Linked DNA regions of Homo sapiens: regions 2, 3, 4, 5, 6 and 7 are each reported to be linked to region 1. The links are microRNA targets in miRTarBase. Many come from high-throughput screens and were not tested one by one. Region 1 holds a microRNA gene; each other region holds the end of a gene's coding sequence.
Evidence for each region. Region 1 holds the annotated microRNA hsa-miR-122-5p (UGGAGUGUGACAAUGGUGUUUG, at 806-827, shown strand). A microRNA usually pairs through its seed, bases 2 to 8, with sites in the 3' UTR of a target mRNA and lowers its output. Matches are read on the target gene's strand: a 7mer-m8 pairs with bases 2 to 8, a 7mer-A1 pairs with bases 2 to 7 and ends in A, and an 8mer does both.

Region 2: the mRNA of FIG4 is a reported target of hsa-miR-122-5p. The part of its 3' UTR that is shown has no 7-base or 8-base seed match.
Region 3: the mRNA of EYA4 is a reported target of hsa-miR-122-5p. The part of its 3' UTR that is shown has no 7-base or 8-base seed match.
Region 4: the mRNA of GLOD4 is a reported target of hsa-miR-122-5p. The part of its 3' UTR that is shown has no 7-base or 8-base seed match.
Region 5: miRTarBase lists SUCLA2 as a target of hsa-miR-122-5p. Seed matches in the 3' UTR shown: 7mer-m8 at 2,283-2,289.
Region 6: the mRNA of STAU2 is a reported target of hsa-miR-122-5p. The part of its 3' UTR that is shown has no 7-base or 8-base seed match.
Region 7: miRTarBase lists FBXO27 as a target of hsa-miR-122-5p. Seed matches in the 3' UTR shown: 7mer-A1 at 1,016-1,022 and 7mer-A1 at 1,312-1,318.

The regions. Positions count from the first base shown.
Region 1 is chr18:58,450,283-58,453,379 of GRCh38, forward strand. MIR122 (microRNA 122) reads left to right here and starts at 792; the gene lies at 792-876. MIR122HG (MIR122 host gene) reads left to right here. Exons shown (of 3, transcript NR_170245.1): 3 at 537-999. MIR3591 (microRNA 3591) reads right to left here and starts at 870; the gene lies at 798-870.
Region 2 is chr6:109,824,887-109,827,964 of GRCh38, forward strand. FIG4 (FIG4 phosphoinositide 5-phosphatase) reads left to right here. Exons shown (of 23, transcript NM_014845.6): 23 at 202-540. The coding sequence ends at 379. Among named protein-coding and RNA genes, the nearest start is that of FIG4, 140 kb to the left of the region's middle.
Region 3 is chr6:133,528,221-133,531,307 of GRCh38, forward strand. EYA4 (EYA transcriptional coactivator and phosphatase 4) reads left to right here. Exons shown (of 20, transcript NM_004100.5): 20 at 505-3,087. The coding sequence ends at 585. The region is part of intron 6 of TARID (TCF21 antisense RNA inducing promoter demethylation); the gene reads right to left. Among named protein-coding and RNA genes, the nearest start is that of EYA4-AS2, 73 kb to the left of the region's middle.
Region 4 is chr17:757,275-760,371 of GRCh38, reverse strand. It overlaps GLOD4 (glyoxalase domain containing 4), which reads left to right. Exons shown (of 9, transcript NM_016080.4): 9 at 134-1,042. The coding sequence ends at 199. Among named protein-coding and RNA genes, the nearest start is that of GEMIN4, 6.6 kb to the right of the region's middle.
Region 5 is chr13:47,940,588-47,943,684 of GRCh38, forward strand. SUCLA2 (succinate-CoA ligase ADP-forming subunit beta) reads right to left here. Exons shown (of 11, transcript NM_003850.3): 11 at 2,069-2,858. The coding sequence ends at 2,784. Among named protein-coding and RNA genes, the nearest start is that of LINC00562, 9.5 kb to the left of the region's middle.
Region 6 is chr8:73,418,685-73,421,781 of GRCh38, reverse strand. STAU2 (staufen double-stranded RNA binding protein 2) reads left to right here. Exons shown (of 15, transcript NM_001164380.2): 15 at 317-1,413. The coding sequence ends at 410. STAU2-AS1 (STAU2 antisense RNA 1) reads right to left here and starts at 1,708. Exons shown (of 3, transcript NR_038406.1): 1 at 1,543-1,708.
Region 7 is chr19:39,022,592-39,025,591 of GRCh38, reverse strand. FBXO27 (F-box protein 27) reads left to right here. Exons shown (of 6, transcript NM_178820.5): 6 at 38-1,571. The coding sequence ends at 181. Among named protein-coding and RNA genes, the nearest start is that of FBXO27, 8.5 kb to the left of the region's middle.

The DNA of each region.
Region 1 (3,097 bases):
GCAGGAGTTCACATAACAATTATAAACCATCTTTAACAGGAAAGCCAAGTAAATCCTGTAGGGATTTATTTGGAGCTCCCTTTTTGCTAGAAAATGAGTATCATGAACTAAAAATGGACTCGTTTCCTCTCTCTCCATCTTCCTCTCTTTCTTCTCTCCCCTCATCTCCCACCCACCGCCATGGTGGAAAATGACTGTGGTCAAGAAGATTGAACATTTGAGCAAGACCAGATGCCTTTATATCCAATAGATGCCACGGAGAGTAGATCACAACACATCTAACTGCTGTATCCCCATATAAAATAATTTTAATTTTCCTAGACTGCAGAATTGATCACATTTACTGATGATGGATTGGGAAGTAGGTGAAGAGGTGAGAGTTGGAGAGTATCCATTCATTCGGCCAGATTATTCTCATTTATAATGTAGTCTTCCAATAAGTATTTATTTCCAGAAATCTATTCCCTCTAGAGATTCTTTCTCTCTCAGCCATTTTAGAAAATTGTTGCAAACAGAGTTCCTGTCCATTTTCACAGGAAGTTTTTGCAGAAGGGGTTTGCTGGGTGGCAGTGGAACACAGGCAGTGGACCCCTCTACTACTCTACTGTTCCAGAACACAGAAGCCTTTCATTGAGAGTGTTCAGCTCTTCCCATTGCTCAAGATGCTTGTACCCGTGATGCTTCTTTTCTCTGCTTAGGTCACAATATGTGGAGCTGACAAGGTTCCCCTATTATCAGTGACAATGGTGGAATGTGGAGGTGAAGTTAACACCTTCGTGGCTACAGAGTTTCCTTAGCAGAGCTGTGGAGTGTGACAATGGTGTTTGTGTCTAAACTATCAAACGCCATTATCACACTAAATAGCTACTGCTAGGCAATCCTTCCCTCGATAAATGTCTTGGCATCGTTTGCTTTGAGCAAGAAGGTTCATCTGATATCAGTCTTCTCAATCTTGTGTACTTACTGAATAAAGTCTGGCTCTTTTGCACTCATAACCAATATGGTTAGCTGAACCCTGCCTCTCACATGCTGTTGTTACATACCTTAGCTGGTGATTAATTTTCTTGTTTTCCCAAGTCAATAAAAAGATTGCAGACCAGGCACGGTGGCTCACGCCTGAAATCCCAGCACTTTGGGAGGCCAAGGCAGGCGGATCACTTGAGCTCAGGAGTTCAAGTCCAGCCTGGGCAGCATGGTGAAACCGTGTCTCTACAAAAACTACAAAAATTAGCCAGGCATGGTGGCATGTGCCTGTAATCTCAGCTACTTGAGAGGCTGAGGTGGGAGGATCAATTGAGCCCACGAGGTTGAGGCTGTAGTGAGCTGTGATGGTACCACTGCACTCCAGCCTGTGTGACAGAGCAAGATCCTGTCTCAAAAAATGAAAATAAAAAGATTGCAGAGTTCCTCAGAGCCCCCAACACAAGGCCAGGCACGAGGTAATCATTTAACCCATGCTTATAGACTTAAAATGAATAGTTAGGAAAGTGTTAGACGCAGAAGGCTAAGACTGGGCTAAATCTATGTTATGCAGACAGACCGCAAGCTTATAGGTACAAAATTAAGGTGTGTGGGTCCTTCTCTTTTCGTCGTTAAAAAATCCAACTTTCTAATAAACTTACACATGGTTTCACTGACGTTTCAGAAATTCTAGAATATGTTTGATTTCTACTGATTTCAATCAATTACTAGGCTGATTACTGAATTCGTACACTAGGCCTTTCTTCCTCTTGCATCAGTGAATTACCATCAGAAAATTGTTTATGAAGCATGTGTGAGCTGCCATAGCAAATCTGGGACCCATGCAGTTTCTAGGACAGTTGGCCCAGCCAGGTGCTCTGGTTTGGAACCCATTCTGTCTCTGAGAGGTGTCTAAAGTCAGGAGTAGGTTTCGTTTGTGCCAGACTAAAGCTTCCCTCCCCAGGCTTGGTTAAATGAAGTAGGACATGTTTAATCAAATAGACAGGGTTAGATCAACCATCAGAAACAAATTCAACCATTCAACCATTCACTTATGAAATAAATATGTGTAGAGACTACCGTGTGCCTGACACTGTCCTAGGCATTGAAGACACTTTTAAATTAAATGTGTCTGATGTTATTTCCAGAGATGGGCATTCACTGGCTCGCATTATATTTTGGGACCATTGTAATTGTTCCAAACGGGAGCCAAATGAGCAAAACTTTGCGAAATAATTCTGAGTCCCTTGCTGGAAAGCCTCACCTGAATGCAGCCCACACATTTATGATACACTACAAAGGCTTCAAGGTCATGAGATGCCTCTGTCCAAAGAAGAAGAAGAGCACCCCTGCCTGCCCTGCATCTCTTACCACCTCTCATTTCTTCCCTCCTGGCACCATCTACTGTCAAGAAGAGAATCAGACTCCCTGAAATAATTGAGACACTGACATTCCTTTTTGTGTGTATTTTTTTGGCAAAGGCTCTAATTGAACAGGCATTAATAGAGGGCTCTACTGTTATACAGATCACGCTCATGCACACTGTATTAGTCTGTGTTTTCATGCTGCTGACAAAGACATACCCGAGACTGGGAAGAAAAAGAGGTTTAATTGGACTTACAGTTCCACATGGCTAGGGAGACCTCAGAATCATGGCGGGAGATGAAAGGCACTTCTTACGTGGCATCAGCAATAGAAAATGAGGAAAAAGCCAAAGTGGAAACCCCTGATAAACCCATCAGATCTCGTGAGACTTATTCACTATCATGAGAATAGCAGGGGAAAGACTGACCCCCATGATTCAATTACCTTTCCCTGGGTCCCTCCCACAGCACGTGGGAATTCTGTGCGATACAATTGAAGCCGAGATCTGGATGGGGACTCAGCCAAACCATATCACATGCCATTTCATTTGATCCATACAACATGGGGCAAAGATGATCGGTTTGACAAACAGAGTCTAAAGGGTTCTGGAATCGTCTGGTCCTCCAGCCACAACTCAACATGGATCTCTTAAGTCTAAAGTTCTGTCCTGTACCTGCAGCCTCCTTTGGCCTAGTTATTTTGTGAAATCTCATGCTTCACAGTCGAATCTGTGTAGAACCTGGGTTAATCACGCCAGTATGCGATCAATATC
Region 2 (3,078 bases), not on the chromosome of region 1:
CCAGAGGTGTTGGTCCAGCTCTCTCCTCCAGGCAGAGAAGAGAACCAGCCTCGCAAGGACTGGGGAGGTCATCCCAGCAGCTTGTCAAAAGTCAGCCTGCTTATTCAATGCCAGCGACTCTCAAGTGCTTCTGAGACTGCTCCCTGTGGTCCTTCCTTATATTTTCTTTAATGCAGCCCTCTCTTTATTCATCTTTTATAGAACACCCATCTCGGCTTTCTCGCAAGATAACATCTATGAAGTTCAGCCCCCAAGAGTAGACAGAAAATCTACAGAGATCTTCCAAGCCCACATCCAGGCCAGCCAAGGTATCATGCAGCCCCTAGGAAAAGAGGACTCCTCCATGTACCGAGAGTACATCAGGAACCGCTACCTGTGAAAAGAGCGCAGGTCCACCTGGTGGACACGTCTGATTAGCTTAGAACCTGTCTTGTCTCATCTTCAAAAGGTAACTTATTAAAAGTCCTTTGCGTCTGAAGCCTTTCTCCTTTTCTGTCACTTGCAAATTCCAAATTATAGCTAATAAAGATGACTAGATAATTTGCTGTTGTTGCCTTTGCTTTATTTTAGAAATACTTTGTTTACAAATGTGGTCAATATACTATCACACCATCACATTAAGAAATTCACAGGTATCTGCTGAGCACCTGCTGTGTGCCAGGCACCATGGCAAGGTCTAGGAACATCCCAGTAAGCAAAACAGGCCAAAAAATTCCTCTCTTGTGAGGAATGAAGGCAAAGTATTTTTCTTATCTTTATCCGTGAAAGCAAAGTATTGTTTCCTTGTAGTTAACATTTTGACATTTATTCTGGTGGCTTCTATGTTAACTTTGTATTTTGATCAGAAATTTCATTATTCTAAAAGGCCTTGTTTATAGGAAACAAATGCTGAAATATTTATGGATAAACGGACAAGATGTCAAAAAAGTGTTCTCCAGTGGTTCAGGATAAAAAGAATGAATGATAAATCAAATGGAGCAAAATATTAATAACTTGTAAATCTAGGTAAAAAGTAAACAGGAGTTCTTTGAGCTACTCGTGCTGCTTTTCTGTAAGTATAAAATTATATCAAGGCTGGGCACAGTGGCTCACGCCTGTAATCCCAGCACTTTGGGATGCTGAGGCGGGGGGATCACCTGAGGTCGGGAGTTCAAGACCAGCCTGACCAACATGGAGAAACCTCGTCTCTACTAAAACTACAAAACTAGCCGGGCGTGGTGGCGCATGCCTGTAATCCCAGCTACTAGGGAGGCTGAGGCAGGAGAATCGCTTGAACCTGGGAGGTGGAGGTTGCGGTAAGCCAAGATCGGCCATTGCACTCCAGCCTGGGCAACAAGAGTGAAACCCGTCTCAAAAAAAAAAATTATATCAAAATAAATTGTTAAAATTATTATTCCAGTTGACTTCCTGTGGCATGCAGCTGCGTTACATACTTTGACATTTGGTGTTCAGTCAGGTGTTGACTGATCACAGCACGTGTTTTGTTCTCTGTATAGTCAAACATGAATGTGGACAACTTTCTGCATTTCCTAACAGTTTACCACAAATGATTTGATCTCATTATGTCTATACTTTTGTTACAGACTGTCCCATTCTCCCTCCCCATAAATAATATAGAGAAGAAAGCCAAGCCTTCTAATGGGAGAAGGAAAACTGGTTAGCCAAAATGACCTGTGAGCTATCACCAACCCTGACATGCTGGGATTCTATGGAAGGTTTTATATTGCAAAGAAAGGTTAAGTCCCCATTTGACAGATATTTTTGATTGATGCCATCATGAAGTAAAGATTAGAGAATGACAAAATAATAGGTAAGAGGAATTTTGCCTTGGCGCAGGTTGAATATCTAACACAATAGCTTGCTGTTGTGTGTGGGGGTGGGATCTCACGTAAATCTTCCCAAGTCAAAGAATAATCCCAAATTGCTGCAGAGGTGCCAATTATAGATCAGACACTGATCTTCATTTTTAAAATTTATTTTTAACATGGCTTCTAGAGGTCCACCTACTTAGGAAAAGAATGAACTTAAAGTTCTTTGAGAAGATCTGAAATCCAGATCTTCTTTCACAACCTCCCTGAGCTTAACTTTCCATAGCTGTAAAATGAGGATAATAATCCCTGCTCTACTGGCTTATTATGGCACTTAAGAGACTCTGCATGTAAAACATACAGCCATGGTTCCATGGTTCCTGGCACATAAATGATGCTGTCAATGGTAGCTGCTGTTGATGATGGCAGTGGTTGGTATTGGTGACAGTGATGGTGTCCTCAGCACCAACACCCCGATATTTTCAATTTAAGGCATCCGTGTATGTCCTTTTCAGAGTTAACACAATTTTGATGTAACAAGGTGGTATCTGAGCTATTACTTTTGACATTCAGATTACTTAACTTTGGATATACAAGGAAGGCTTTACAAATTGGTAGCAAACCAGACATAACATTTAACCTCTAGAAAAAGGTTAGTGATCTCAAGGAGCATGTAAACAAAGTAAATGCGTATCTGAAAGTACTAAAAAGCTAATATGTCATGGAAAATATAGAAACTGCTCTTATTTGTAGACCCAAAGGGAAGCAAATATGGTTAAGAGCAGGAGCTTTGCTCTCCATCACTTACTAGTAGCTGTGGGTCTTTGAGCAATCACTTAGCATCTCTAATCCTCAATTTTTTCATCTAGTATAGATAGTTGCTGAGAGAAAGAAGATACCTGTAAAGCACTGGGCATGGTGTCTAGCACAGCGTAAATATTCACTAAAAGATCACTGATCACATATAATCACCAGCACTTGCTAACCTGGTACCTGAGCATCATCTCGGAACAAGGTTATATATTAATGCTCACCATGTCCTAGTCACTGAAAAAGGAGAAGATGTCCTAGTTCAGCTTGGCATTGTAGATTTTAATTCTTTAAATAAGGCAATCTAAATGAATCTGGAGACACAGTAGGTCATAAATTGAAATCTCAGCAAATTATGGCGAGATCCCATGAAATAAAATTTTGTTGGTTGTATACCCAAGGGCAAAGCATTCACATTAAAATAACAATGTGAACTTCCTAAGGGTATGCGTGTGTGTGT
Region 3 (3,087 bases), not on the chromosome of region 1:
TTCTACTTTATGTAGTCCTGCTTCAAATTATTTTTATACAGAAAGGAATTCACCCTCTTTTCTTCCTAGATTAACAAAATTAAGAAGTTTGTCATTTTGTTTCATTTTATTTTTAATTGAGAGGCCCGTAGGAGTGATGCACTGATTAAAACTTGCTTTCCATTAGCCAGGTAGGATTTTGATGCCCACTTGCTTTCCCAGATGTTGATGTTGGTAGCGATACTTCCAGAATAAATATTAAACTATCTAAGAAATGTTAATATTTGCTATTATTCTCATTAAAATCCAGTTCAGATCTATTTCTCTGTTACTTTGACAGTGCCATATTGGTGCTGCCAAGCCTTCACATATGATCATCCCGCCTTTAAACTCTCTCCCCTGAACTTGGGTGGACCACACATCCCTGTGTGTGCTGCTGCTTCATTGAGACAATGGTTGTGATCTCTCTCCATGCCTCATTCCTTCCCCTTCTCTCTCCCATCCCTCCTTCTCCTAACCACACAGCACAACATGCCCTTCTGGAGGATATCCAGTCACTCAGACCTCCTGGCTCTCCACCAAGCACTGGAATTAGAGTATTTGTAACTGTGTTCTTTAGCCGGAGATCCATTTTTTATATTTCAAGTACACTGAATTTTTATGTGTGATTCAATGCCTCTGGCTCTACACATATAAATTGTCTTAATGGATGAAATCATATTTGGAATAAAAATTCCAGAATGAAGAATTCAGATTGCTGAATGGAGTTAAACTTTAGTGCTACAGAAAAGAAACTCTATGGTCTTATATTTACAACACTTTAATGGGTTTTTTAAAAATCTGTGGAGGTTGCTGGTACACACCAAATGAGTCCAAACTGGAATGAGCAGCTTTAGCAAAGAACTCTTACCCTGGCAAAGCAGCAACACACATGCTCCGTCTGACAAGGTGGTCAACAACATTCCTCAAAATGGGAGATCTTCTCAGCCCTGAGGTTTGAATCTGACTTTAGCCTACCTAACCCAGAAAATCTGAATTGGAATGCACTCAGACTGTATAAGGACAGTCCTATTTAGACATGTAATTTGTGTAAATTATTGATGAAAATAATTTACTGTGACTTTATTAGCAGCTGACTTTCAAAGTGGATGCAATTTTTCTTTCTTTTGTTGGGGAGGGGAATGGGAGGGGAAATGGGAATATAATATTGTCTCTTTTTTAAGTTTGGCAAACAGAATGTTCATACTGATGTGTTGTGCCTTAAAGACAAGACAGCATTTGTGTGTTACAATGTAACTTTGGTTAAAATCTCTGTAGATAATGAAAAAAAACAAAAAAAAAAACCTTTGTGATGATTCTTAACATGACCAAATTTAAAAGTCAAGCTCTCAGAGCTTAATTACCGCATCAGCAAGAAACTGAGTATTTTTTGCAATAAGAAAACAACAATAATAAAGGAAAGCTTGTGTTTCATTTGGGTTCTTAATAATTCCAATAATTGTATGAGGCAACTATTTGCGCATCCAACCATGAGTGGAAGGTTTGGGAAAGACTGTGGGACCTTTACTTAGAAAGTGAAATGTATGTAGAAGTCTCAAGTACCCCTTCTACAGTTTTACTGGAGAAAACTAAGAGCCATATTCATGACAACTTGCACAGTTTTGAGGTTGAGACTTTTGATATGTGTAAGTTGCATAGAGGAGGATATTATCATGCAAATCATGAGCAATTATCACATAAACTTTTTTAGAATGTGCCATGAACATGGCATAAAATTCACATTGAGTGCACAGGGCTTAAAATAAAGCTAAGTATGTTTATTCCCAATGCCATGGCAAAAATGATAATATCATCAGAAATGGAAGGCAGTTCTCCCAGATGGTGTCTAATGAAAGCAATGAGTCTATGAAAATTTTACCTAGAATATCATCATAAATTAAATTAGCAAGTGCGCTGGATCTTGGCAGCGCTGCTGAAATGACAACAGTAAAATAATACCTGGTTCTCCATCTGAATACATCAATGCAGGTTCTCCTCGTAACAGACTTGCATATGTTTGTTAGTTTCTGCCTGTATTGTCACTGCGCAACGGATGGCATTCATTACAAGAAGAGCCCATCATCGTTGTGTTTGCATGGTTTTTTTCCTTGTGTGTAGCCCATGTTGGGAACACGATACAGGTTCTCCTCTTATTTCCTATGACACGATTTCCCTTGTGGAAATTTAAGACTTTAAGAACTAGAGTATTTTTATGGTGTCTGCACCTGCAGTTCTGTGTTTAAAATGTCATAATGTGGATCCTGGAGTCAGGCTACTAGTCAGTGCCCCTAGCCAGAGGCTGGTTCATGAGTTCATCAACTGAGGCCTCTGTGGCTTCAATAAAGTCTACATTTTGCTCACAGATCACAACATTCACTGTGGAAATATGATTTCATTTCTTTAGGCTACAAACCTGTATTTCTTTACTGAATGCTAAGGCCATGTTTATATTGGGTAGAAAGATATTGAGATCCCAATTTTGTACAAGATTGTGATTTCATTATCTAAACCTTAAACTTAATCCTTTAAATTTTGTAGCTTTTGGCTGCATCTGCCCCAAGTACTATTCCAGGCAAATTAAAGTTGGAATACCTTTAATAATATAAAAATAATGATAGTAAATCTTATACTTCTGTTGGCCCTTAGCTTGAAAATAGCAGTTAAAAAAATTTAAATGTTGCCTTGATTATCAGTACTTAATTATGTTGTGCACTAAAACCTTAAATATTTATTACTGTGAATAAAAACAAATTATCTTTACTGTATAGCTGGTTTCTTTAAATGTTGATAGAATTGTGGCATTACATCTAAATTTGTAAGTCTTTTCATATCAAACAAGCAAGGCTTTTTATGCTGCTAAGTCTGTGGGTGCAGAAAGAAACACCCCTTGGAAGGGCAAAGAGAAGCCGGCTGGTTGCATCACCCCGTGCAGTTTCTCACACACATCTCTTTTTCTGATTCTGTGTTCAGAAGAGGCTGCCGGCATAAAACCTAAATGCAAGGTTGACGGAGAACAGCTTGTCTGGCACAACAATGGTGCAGGCCCACGAGCCAGCATCACAGCTTGGC
Region 4 (3,097 bases), not on the chromosome of region 1:
TTGGAGCGGGGGTTTGGGTCCTTTTTTTAATGTTAATTTTTTTTATTGTGGTCAGTACAGTGAGATATAAAGTGGGCTATGTCTTTTGTTTTTCAGGCTTGGAGTCAGTGTATATTCTATTTCTATTTTACAGGCAATGGCAGCAGATAAAAGTGACGAGTGGTTTGCCAAACACAATAAACCCAAAGCTTCAGGTTAACGGAAGACATGATGCAGAGCAAGCCTCTGTGATTCCTGCCCAGCACCTGTGAGGCCTGACGTGTCAGTTCCCAATAAATGCTCTTCTGATTTGTTTCCCGTACAGGCAAGGAGGCTTGGGTAGTGCAGATTTGTGTATTTCAATCTTTGAAAGCTCTGATGTAATTTAGAAATGAAATCCAATCATGAGTCCAGGTAGAGAACGCCTGCTGTAATCTACACTGTTGCTGGGACTGCGCATTCTGTATATAACTGTGTTGGATGAGTGACAGATGATTGTCCAGACTAGGACAGCGGCATGAACATGACTTTGGTTGGGATTGCGGATAGTTAGGGTTACCTCTGAATCGTGTAGCTTTTATGAGAGCAGCTGTGCAAGTGAATCCACATTAATGCCTTGTCGTGGTGCCATTCCCAGCGCCTGACGATACGCTCTTCTATTGTCTTATTCTGGCAGGTTTTGACGTTTTAAATTTTTTAAAGAAATTTTATTCCTTGGACCAAAAGGTTTGGTTAACCACCCCCCTCTTACTTGCTTTCACATTTTGAGTGTCCAGAGGAAACAGAAAGGAATGAGTGTGTGACGTTGCTGCACGCCTGACTCTGTGCGAGCTTCTTTCTGTGTATATATTTTGTTTTATTTTTTTCCGTGTATATTTTTAATCCCGACAGAACATCATGTGAGATTTCTTTAAAATGGATTAAACGATTTCTTCAGCCTGAAAAAAAAGGTTTTGAAAATGTTTTCTTGTAGTTTTGTTTGGTTCTAAACAACAAATAGGTTTTAATCACTCGAAATGGAATTATATTGTGTATTCATTGAATAAATTTTTTTTGAAAGTAAGCTTCTGAAATCAAGCTGTGATACCAGTCTCTAAGTCTCATCATGTAAAGTGGTGGCCAGGTTCAGATTTTTAAAAATAAACTTAGGAGATTGGAAGGGATTGACTCAGAGGATCCTGGTTCCCAAAGAACACATAGAGAATTACTTGTAAATCGTAACCTCTGCTTTCCTCCCTTACTGGCAGGGCGTAGGGCATCGAAATTTTGGTTGTATTTGAGCTTATCTTCTTATAGGGGTGATGCTATTATACCTTCACGGAGAGAAATAAATTCTCATCCAGCTCTACAACTTTTCATTCAGCTTGAATTCCATATCCTAGGGAAGCAGTCTTGAGTTTCAAAGCAAACCAAGTTATATATATGGCCCTCCTCTAGGTAATTGGTTCTTTTTATTTTTTATTTTTTTTTTTTGAGACAGAGTTTCGCTCTTGTTGCCCAGGCTGGAGTGCAATGGCGTGATCTTGGCTCACTGCAACCTCCGCCTCCCGGTTTCAAGCGATTCTCCTGCCTCAGCCTCCCAAGTAGCTGGGATTACAGGCATGCGCCACCACGTCTGGCTAATTTTGTATTTTTAGTAGAGATGGGCTTTCTCCGTGTTGGTTAGGTTGGTCTCGAACTCCCGACCTCAGGTGATCCACCTGCCTCAGCCTGGGATTACAGGTGTGAGCCACCGTGCCCTTCTCTTTTTTTTTATACATGTGGAAATTATTATATGAACTTTGAATAACCAGGTAAACTTCTGCTTCTCTTTAGAATGTATGTTAATTTTCCAATTTTCTATTAGATTATTAAGTAATTTTTAATGTTCATCTCTAGTAATATTGTCCTTGTGAAAAGAAACTCCTTTTCCCAGTGTATTGGGCTGCTATAATGTGGCCCTCGAAGTTTGTTGTAGTAAAATAAGTGGTTTATATAAGTACCGAATAACTAAATAACACACACAGGTTTCCCTTTTATCTGCTTATCTTGTATTTTGGCGTACCAAAACGTTTTTCTCCTAAATATACAACTGTGCATGATAGTGGGCACCATGCAGGGTGAACAGTAATGCTGTTTGTCTGCATAGGACATTTTGGCTTTAGGAGATCTGCCTCCTTTTATTTATTTCATTGCCTGTCATGTCTCGCTTTGTTGCGTTTTGTTTTTGCTTTTGTTTTTGTTTTTTTTTAAGACGGAGTTTCACTCTTGTTGCCCAGGCTGGAGTGCAATGGCGCAACCTCGGCTCACCGCAACCTCTGCCTCCCGAGTTTGAGCGATTCTCCTGCCTCAGCCTCCCAAGTAGCTGGGATTACAGGCATGTGCCACCACACATGGCTAATTTTGTATTTTTAGTAGAGACGGGTTTTCTCCATGTTGGTCAGGCTGGTCTTGAACTTCTGACCTCAGGTGATCAGCCACCTCGTCCTGTTGGCGTTTTTTAACATTTTATTCATCCTAAAGCCCTCTAGTGTACAACTTTGGCTTTTTATCAAGGCATCCAGAAGCTTGCTTCTGCACAGTTCAGCTAAGTAATTCTAAACCAAAAAAGAGTAATTTTTAAAAATTATTATTTAGGCCGGGCGCGGCGGCTCAAGCCTATAATGCCAGCACGTTGGGAGGCTGAGGCAGGCGGATCACCTGAGGTCGGGAGCTCGAGACCAGCCTGACCAACACGGAGAAACCCCATCTCTACTAAAAATACAAAATTAGATGGGTGTGGTGGTACCTGCCTGTAATCCCAGCTACTCAGGAGGCCAAGGCAGGAGAATCCCTTGAACCTGGGAGGCGGAGGTCGCGGTGAAGCGAGATCACGCTGTCGCACTCCAGCTGGGCACCAAGAGCGAAACTCCGTCTCAAAAAAAAAAAAATTATTTAGACGCCCATTAGATCCGCAAAAACTAATTTTAAACAAAAGTGATTAGTTTCCCACATCTGGGGGATATGATCAATTAGAAAATGGCATGAGGAAGATAGCTTTGCCCAAGCTGGTGTTTCATTTTTGGTTTTTGAGACATTGCTCTATCACGCAGGGTGGAGTGCAGTGGGGCACCATCGTGGCTTTCTGCAGCCTTGACCT
Region 5 (3,097 bases), not on the chromosome of region 1:
ATGAATCTTTAAAAAGTAAAAACTAAATGACTGGACTTTTAATTATCACAAGTTTTGTTTTTTTTTAAGATGGAGTTTTGCTCTTTGTTGCCCAGGCTGGAGTGCTGTGGCGTGATCTCAGCTCACTTCAACCTCCGCCTGCCTCCCAGGTTCAAGTGATTCTCCTCTCTCAGCCTCCCAAGTAGCTAGGATTACAGGCGCCCGCCACCATGTCTGGCTAATTTTTGTATTTCTAGTAGAGACAGGGTTTAACCATGTTGGCCAGGCTGGTCTCAAACTCCTGACTTCAGGTGATCCACCCACCTCGGCCTCCCAAAGTGCTGGGATTACAGGCGTGAGCCACCGCACCTGGCTATAATTTTAAATGGTTTATGGCTCTGATACTCTGTGTCATATATATGTAAACTACCAAATATATATTTGGCTAAAAATACATATTGTTTTCTACATATAAATTCTCTCACATATTTTTGTTCTCTTCCCTTACTAAATAAACTTCACTGATAAGAAAAGAGCTAAGTAAACTGAGGGACACTAGCATTAAAACTTACTCTAAGGCAGAAAGACTGCTTGATGCCAGCCTGGGCAATGTAGCAGGACCCCATCTCTATAAAAAATAAATTAGCTGGGCATGTTGGCATGCACATGTAGTCCCAGCTACAAAAGGAGGCTGAGGCAGGACGATCACTTGAACCCAGGAGATTGAAACTGCAGTGAGTCATGATTGTGCCACTGCACTCCAGCCTGGTTGACAGACTGAGATCCTGTCTCAAAAAAACAAAAAACAAAAGAAGCCCTCATACAGCTAGTAAGTAGTGGATCCAGATTCAAAGCAGACAGTCTACTTTCAAAGTCTGTGCTCATCATCACTACGTTATGCTGCCTCTCATAGTATATACATCTGATCACACTTTAAGAACATCACAATAGGTAGAAGTTCTTAAATCCATCAGTATGGTTAAATAGTCTACTGCTTGGTCAACATTTCCTTCCATGGCATTAGTTAACTACCAAGTTTTATGCAGTGAGCAAAAGGTCAATATGTATATATACACACACACATATATTTACATATATGGACAAAAAGAACCATGTGACTACAATCTGTCTAAAAATATCCACCTGTTACCATATAAAACATCATACAGACTTTGGGAGTCCGAGGCGGGCAGATCACGAGATCAGGAGATCAAGACCATCCTGGCTAACTCGGTGAAACCCTGCCTCTACTAAAAATACAAAAAATGAGCTGGGTGTGGTGGCAGGCGCCTGTAGTCCCAGCTACTCGGGAGGCTGAGGCAGGAGAATGGTGTGAACCCCAGAGGCGGAGCTTGCAGTGAGCTGAGATCGTGCAACAGCACTCCAGCCTGGGCAACAGAGCGAGACTCCATCTCAAAACAAAAACAAAAACAAAAACATCATACAAATTTAGACATGTCCAAGACCAAAAAATAAACTCAGCTTCTCTCTTCCTCAGTAAAATAGTTAAGAAAAGGCTTTGAAGTTAGGCATCTTGGATTCAATTCTCCCCTCTGTTTCCTTTAGAGGATATACTAGATGGCATACACATAAATAGCAGACTTCCAGTGAACTATCTATCTATAAGTAGCTGTATAATATGTATGGTTGGCTGGGTGCAGTAGTTCATACATGTAATCTCAACATTTTGGGAGGCAAAGCCAGGAGGATTGCTTGAGCTCAGGAGTAAGAGACCAGCCTAAGCAACATAGTGATACCCTGTCCCTACCAAAAAAAAAACAAAAATCAAAAACAAAAAAAAACACATATGTTTTTTTGTGGTGTGTGCCTGTAGTCCCTGCTACTTAGGAGGCTCAGGTGGGAGGACTGCTTGAGCCCAGGAGGCAGAGGTTGCAGTGAGCATGATCATACCACTGCACTCCAGCTTGGGTGACAGAGTGAGACCCTGACTCAAAAAAAAAAACAAATCACTGTCATGGCAAGTATATGATCTAAGAATTGGTGCTTAGACCTCTATACTGCAATAACGAACAAATCAACTTCTACTGTGTTTACCTCAAAACAAGCAAACAAAAGCCATGAACCCAAATCATATTGGGAGATTTTTATTAACTTAAATTGACATTCTTAATTTTGTCTGTAAGTCCTTGGTATATATGCCTTTATTTGAAGCAAACCTACAGGTGTTTCTTAATATGACAGAATCATGAAGACTTGCAGTTAATCAGTGTTTCCTAATGATTAAAACAATGTTCAAATAATTACAAAGTTACTTCATCAAAATACTTAGAAGAATATTCTGAGGAGTGTTTGAAAGCTCTGTTTATAAATAGTGATTGATACATTTATCATGTATTTGGTGCTGAAGATAAACACTTTTTACATAAAACATTGTTTTAATATACTGCTCTACTAATGAGGCTAGTTATTAGATATACTGTATTTTAACACTAAAGAATAAAGCTTTATCTTCGTATTTATCTTATTTATAGGACTCTTATCAATGAAGAACTTTGTATCCAACAATAATAAACTGGCAAATTGCAAGTTACGTTTTGTAGGAGAAGCAAAAAAGACTGGCTGCGACAAAAGAAAGAAGATAACTGCATTATACATGCTTCGTACAAACAGTCCATTCTGAATGGTACAATTAAATGCAGTCCAAATCCTTTTAAATGTTTGTGTGCCTAGATGGCAATTACAATCTCCACACACTAAAAAGAAAAAGAACAATAACACAGAACACAGTATTCTTAATGATTATAGCACATTTAACACCTTCAGCCATCCACTGGGTTTTCAGATCATATTGGCAACTGAAATTTCACATCCACATGTGCTTGCTTCGCTAAGGTCACTATTTCAGAGAGCTTTACAACCTAAAAGAAAAGAACGAAGAATTTTCACAAAAAGGTAAATTCAGAACTACAGGTCAGTGCAAAATTAATGTACACTCAATTTTTTCCATTTAAAACATCTGGACTATTCTGACATTGCTATAAATCACATTACGTTCTTATAAGCAAATGACATTCTCAAAGGATAATCAAGTCTGACACTCCTCATAGTCCAAACTTCAATTAAATACTTTCTGATTAAGATGTTATACCACCTGCTA
Region 6 (3,097 bases), not on the chromosome of region 1:
CCAAAAAATTTTTAATAAGAAAAAACAGCATTTGGTTGTTAATATTTAGAAGGTGAGAGCGTGAGAAGAAAACATTTGGTAAACAGACATGGCATTTTAAGTTGTCTATAGATTGTCAACCATTTATAAGCTAATTTAATCAAAAACATTTCCACATGATCTCATCAGTAGACTATCTGAACATAAATATTGTTGTTTCACTTTAAAATGTCACTTTTGTGGTGACCTTTGAATCCTCTGTGCCATCTGCTAATAAACATGTCTGAAGATGTGCAACCCCAGGCCTTCAGCTCTTGTTAATGTATTAATCTTTCAGACAAGCCAAGCATCTGAGAGAGAAAGCGGACAATAACCAGGCACCCCCGGGCTCCATCGCTCAGGACTGCAAGAAATCAAACTCGGCCGTCTAGCAGCTCCCAGAACCCGCGGCTGCCACCGCATCCTTATAAACCTGTCAGCACGCATGAGGGTGTCTGTGTTCAGGGAAATGAATGACTAATACCATTATTTGAGTCTTATGTGAAGACAACACTATTCTAACACGAGAGATAATATACATGGTACTGTTTATTCAACTGGGGAAAAATAAAACTTTGAGCATTTCCCTTGGAACTCGAGATCAGATCATAACTCATTTGCCTAGAGGCAGCAGAAATCTGATCCTGCTACTGGAGCTTAAAATAACAAGTAAAGAAAAGTGTTAGAAACAAAGCTAAAATTTTAACATGATTAATAATAGAGAAGTTGGGTTTGGTTCTGTTGTTATGATTGTTTTGTCGTGGTGCTTGTGTTCAGTTATATTCTCTCTCTCTCTCATTTCAAATACTGCTTGACAATTCGAAAATGAACCAATGATGTGCTGTGGAATGTGATGGTTGTCTTCATATAGAGTCACATGGTTTCTCTTTTTATGCAGATATTTATAATCTTCATCCTATATCAGTAGGAATAACTATAAGGTGCACTACAAAAAGATGTATGCAAACAAACATGTTTTAAATCAGGTCAGATATCTGATGAAAAATACGAACTAATGTTAAGAGCAAGTAGTTTCAACATACTCCAGGAACTGAGAAACAAAACAAAGCAATTGTGGGTTTTGAGCTCCATATACTCTTAGCAAGTAAGGGGGCGTCTTGCCCCTATATATCATCTTCCCGGATTCCACTCCCTGTTGTGGGAATCGCGCCCACCCCCATCCGTGTGTTGTAGCCACTCACGGTTTGCATCAAGAGTGTTTTTTGTAACTGCCTCTGGACTTGGGACAGTGAGTAGGATCAAAAATAAATAATGTACATGACGGGGAAGGGAAAAACCTGTTGGAGTTGCTTCCAGCCAGCCACGCTCCGGGCCAGCATGTTGGAATCCAGCGTGGAGCAGATGCAGTAAAAATGTGGTTGGTTTCTGTGTGAAGCGCTGTTGTTGTTCTTTTGTTCTCTCACTCTCATCTTTTAAATATCACCTCCGTGAAACCCATCCGAAAGGCCACCACCCGGCCTAGTCACTGCCCAGCAGTGGGATTAGAGAATGGATAGGCTGTACCTGAGAAACTGCAGAGCCGCCTCCTGGGTGACTCGGGCCGGGTTCCTGGCCAACGTCATCGCATTGTTCAGGCTTTCTCCTTATTGATTTGCAAACATTGTGCAATGAGAAAACACTACATGGTCTAACTGCTCGACCCAACATGACAATAGGAATATAATTATGTAAGATTTCACAAGCAAAACCACCACAAATCATGATCTGGCTGACTCACACGCGACTGGAGAATAAACAAACAGCAACATAAGGAAATAACTCTAGGGTTGTTTTTAATGATTCCCATGTGGGGAAGTCCGTCAGTATTGGGAGGGCTGGGTGCCCTTGGAGGAAATAGGTTATGTTACATAAAGCTGAGTCCTTGCGAAAAAAAGCAGCACATTTGTAAAGTTGGGGCTCACAAAGGTAAACTGGATGGAAACCCAGTCCTGCTGCCTGACACCAGGGCGCAGATGGCCCTAAATCATTCCCTTTGAAGGGCGCAGGCCCTTCCTTCTGCTAGGCCTTCGCCACCTGAGGTTTAGACCCTCAAATGGGGCGAGGGACTGCTTCAGGCAGGATCATTGAAGTGGATCTTCAGTTTACCCAATGCAATAAACACAGGCTCCCTCCGGCAGCCCACATCAAACTACACCAAGGCTGTCAGGTCTATAGGAGAGCAATGAGCTCCGGGAACAAACCCAGCTAATCAGTTCTCACGACGCACGTATCTGAAGGATTTAACTCTTGAGCTGTCTGACACAGCTTATCCTTAGATAAGTCACCCTTAGACCCGATATATCCATGAATACAGCAATGGTGGTGGGGGCGAGGGAATGGAAATTTGCATAGGAGCTCAAGCTTAGTGATAGCTTATTTATTCAAATCCCATCCTCTCTACCTGCTCACAGAGTCCAGGAAGGCCTTCGGGTATTTTCTCCTGCACAGCAGCACTTCCTGGGAACCGCCTGGGTTTTCTTTGGGTTGAATTACCAATGCAGATGATGGGTGGCCTGCAGTTGTTGGCAGGGACCCGCTGCAACGCTCGGTTCCAAAGAGCAATGTTATATATCATTAGAGGGAAACCATTAAGTAGATTTATTGAAAGTATGTTTCTTCGGCACAAGGAGATCTTTTTGATGAAAAATGGAACTCATTATTCTCTAAAGGACACAGATTGACTTATCTCCGTTATCAATTACAGTGTCTGCTTTCAGCTTGTCTCAATCAAAGCACTGGGCTTTGTAGTCGCTTTCCAGAGCCGAGGCCAATGTGTTTTATGAAAAAGGTTTATTTTTACATTTTAATTGGAAATATAATATTGTACTTTGGAACTCTGACCATCCTTTCCAGGACAACTTGCCAGAGATCAATGGTGAGACACCACCCATCAGGCTGTGACAGACATCTCTCCCCTTTCCTGGGGTGACCCCTCTGATAAGCTGTCCTAGAATTCTTCTCCCCAGAAAACATGCTTAATAGTGATTCTTTTTGACAGCTTCAACCAATTTCCTGTACCATAAAATAAAAATAGCTTAATGAAAAACTTACCTTATTATACAGAGGTTTTCAGGGCTCC
Region 7 (3,000 bases), not on the chromosome of region 1:
GTGGCACAATGGAGCTGAGCCCCTCCTCTGCCTACAGGTCACCCACGTGTTCTCCAACATCAAGATGGGCGTCCGCTTTGTGTCTTTCGAACACCGGGGCCAGGACACACAGTTCTGGGCTGGCCACTATGGAGCCCGTGTGACCAACTCCAGTGTGATCGTGCGAGTCCGTCTGTCCTAGTCCAGCACTACCCTTCTTGCAAGACAGCCTGACTGTGCCTTCCAGGGCCTGGGACCATTGGCTGGGACCCCTCATTAACCAACCAAGCACTTGTACCTCCCTGGCATACTGAGAATTCCTGGGTCCAATCAAAGGCCCTGACGGGCCCTGTCTTCAGGTTCTAGAAACTACCAGAAGAAGCTTCTTCCATCTTATCTACCTACTGCAGCTGCTGCTTTGCGGGGGGGCCCTACTGTACTGAGGGGAAACCCACAAGTGAGCATGGGGGAATGCCCATCCTGGAGAAGAATTCTTGCCCTCCCCTCTCTTCTCCTCCCAACCAAAACCCTCCGATCCAGCCCCAGGCCCCTCTGTACCATCCCCTCCCCTCCGCACCACTGACCTCTTGTCTCCTGTTGTTTCTGCCACAGGGACTTCCTTGGTCCCTTCAGGGAAGCCCTCAACTCATCTCTGAACTTAGAATCTCATCCTTAGGGCTCAGAGAGTCCCAGCCCTAAGGGTGTGAACCTCACCTCCTGGGGCTTCCGAGCTACAGGGCTGGGACCAGGTCATGCAGCTGAAAGTCTACGTTAAAAAAAAAAAGTTTGGGCCAGGCACAGTGGCTCATGCCTGTAATCCCAGCACTTTGGGAGGCTGAGGCAGGCGGATCACCTGAGGTCAGGAGTTCAAGACCAGCCTGGCCAACATGGTGAAACCCCGTCTCTACTAAAAATCCAAAAAATTAGCCGGGCTTGGTGGTGTGCACCTGTAATTCCAGCTACTCGGGAGGCTGAGGCAGGAGAATTGCTTGAGCCCGGGAGGCAGAGGCTGCAGTGAACCAAGATCATGCCACTGCACTCCAGCCTGGGCAACACAGCGAGACTCCGTCTCAAAAAGAAAAAGTTTGGATCAGGCAGGGTGGCTCACACCTGTAATCCCTGCACTTTGGGAGGCCAAGGTGGGAGGATCAGTTGAGCCCCAGAGTTCAAGACCAGCCTGGGCAATGTAGTAAGACCCCCATCGCTACAAAAAATACAAAAGTTAGCCAGGTACAGTAGTACACACCTGTAGTCCAAGCTACTTGGGAGGCTGAAGTGGGAGGATCATTTGTGCCCAGGTTGAGGCTATAGTGAGCCATGATCATACCACTGCACTCCAGCCTGGGTGACAGAGCGAGACCCTGTCTCAAAAAAAAAAAAGAATTTGGAGATGGTTCTGCCCACTCTGGTTTCTCTGAAAAAACGAGGTAATTCCCTGAGCCCAACCCTGATCCTCAAGGACCTGTAATTGTGTGGTATTTAAAATTAAAATAACATTATTTTTATTTTGACTTTTTTTCAAACAGTAAGAATAATATATCAGCAGCATGTATCTGCCAATCATATGTAATAAATTTCTTATTTTGCCAAAACCACTTCAGATCTTTTTAATAGAAATGCAGAGTTACTGCCTTGGTTGAGAATCATAAGTAGTCCCAGTTGAGGAGGGAAAACTGTACGAAAGCAAACACTAGCTGAGGCCGGGCGCAGTGGCTCACACCTATAATCCCAGCACTTTGGGAGGCCGAGGTGGGCGGATCACTTGAGGTCAGGAGTTCAAGACCAGCCTGGCCAACATGGTGAAACCCTGTCTCTACTAAAAATACAAAAAATTAGCCAGGCATGGTGGCACGCGCCTGTAATCCCAGTTACTCGGGAGGCTGAGGTAGGAGAATCGTTTGAATCCGGGAGGTGGAGGTTGCAGTGAGCCAGGATCGCATCACTGCGCTCCATCCTGGGCGAAAGAGCGAGACTCCGTCTCAAATTAAAAAAAAAAAAAAGACAATAGGTCCAGCCTCTAGAGAGCTGACTCCCTGGATCCCCTGGCTGATTTTGGTGAGTGCTGGCTACAATGAGGAAGAAAAGCATGGCCCAAGTGACACCTTTGGCTTTTTTCCCTCTCTTCTGTAGGCTGCAAGAGAAAGGGCCAAGACTTTCCCAAAATGAGTTTTTGGTGGGTCAAAGACAGTAAACAGTTTATAGGTGCTCTTTCCTCCAACTGGGAGTAAAAGAAATTAAATCTATTGCCGGCCAGCTCAAAGCTTTCGATAAGCCAGATGGGAAAAAAAGAATAAGATAAACATACACAGTTGGCCCTCCATGTGGCTAGCTTCTGCATCTGTGGATTCAACCAACTGTAGATTGGAAATATTCGGGAGGCTGGGCCTGGTGCCTCACGCCTGTAATCCCAGTACTCTGGGGGACCGCGGCAGGTGGATCACTTGAGGTCAGTTCGAGACCAGGCTAGCCAACATGGTGAAACCCCGTCTCTACTAAAAATACAAAAATTGCTGGGCATGGTGGCTCACACCTGTAATCTCAGCACTTTGGGAGGCTGAGGCAGATGGATCACCAGAGGTCATGAGTTCGAGACCAGCCAGGCCAATATGGCGAAACCCCATCTCTACTAAAAATACAAAAAAAAAAAATTAGCCAGGCATGGTGGTGGGCACCTGTAATCCCAGCTACTTGGGAGGCTGAGGCAGGAGAATTGCTTGAACCTGGGAGGCAGAGGTTGCCGTAAGCCAAGATCGCGCCATTGCTATCCAGCCAGGGCAACAAGAGCAAAACTCTGTCTCAAAAAATAAATAAATAAAATAAAAATGCAAATTAGCCAGTCGTGGCAGCAGGTGCCTGTAATCCCAGCTGTCTGGGAGTCTGAGGCAGGAGAATCGCTTGAACCCGGGAGGCAGAGGTTGCAGTGATCCAAGATCGCTCCACTGAACTCCAGCCTGGGCGACAGAGACTTTGTCTCAAAAACAGACAAACAAACAAAAAAATTAGCCAGGCATGGAGGCACAC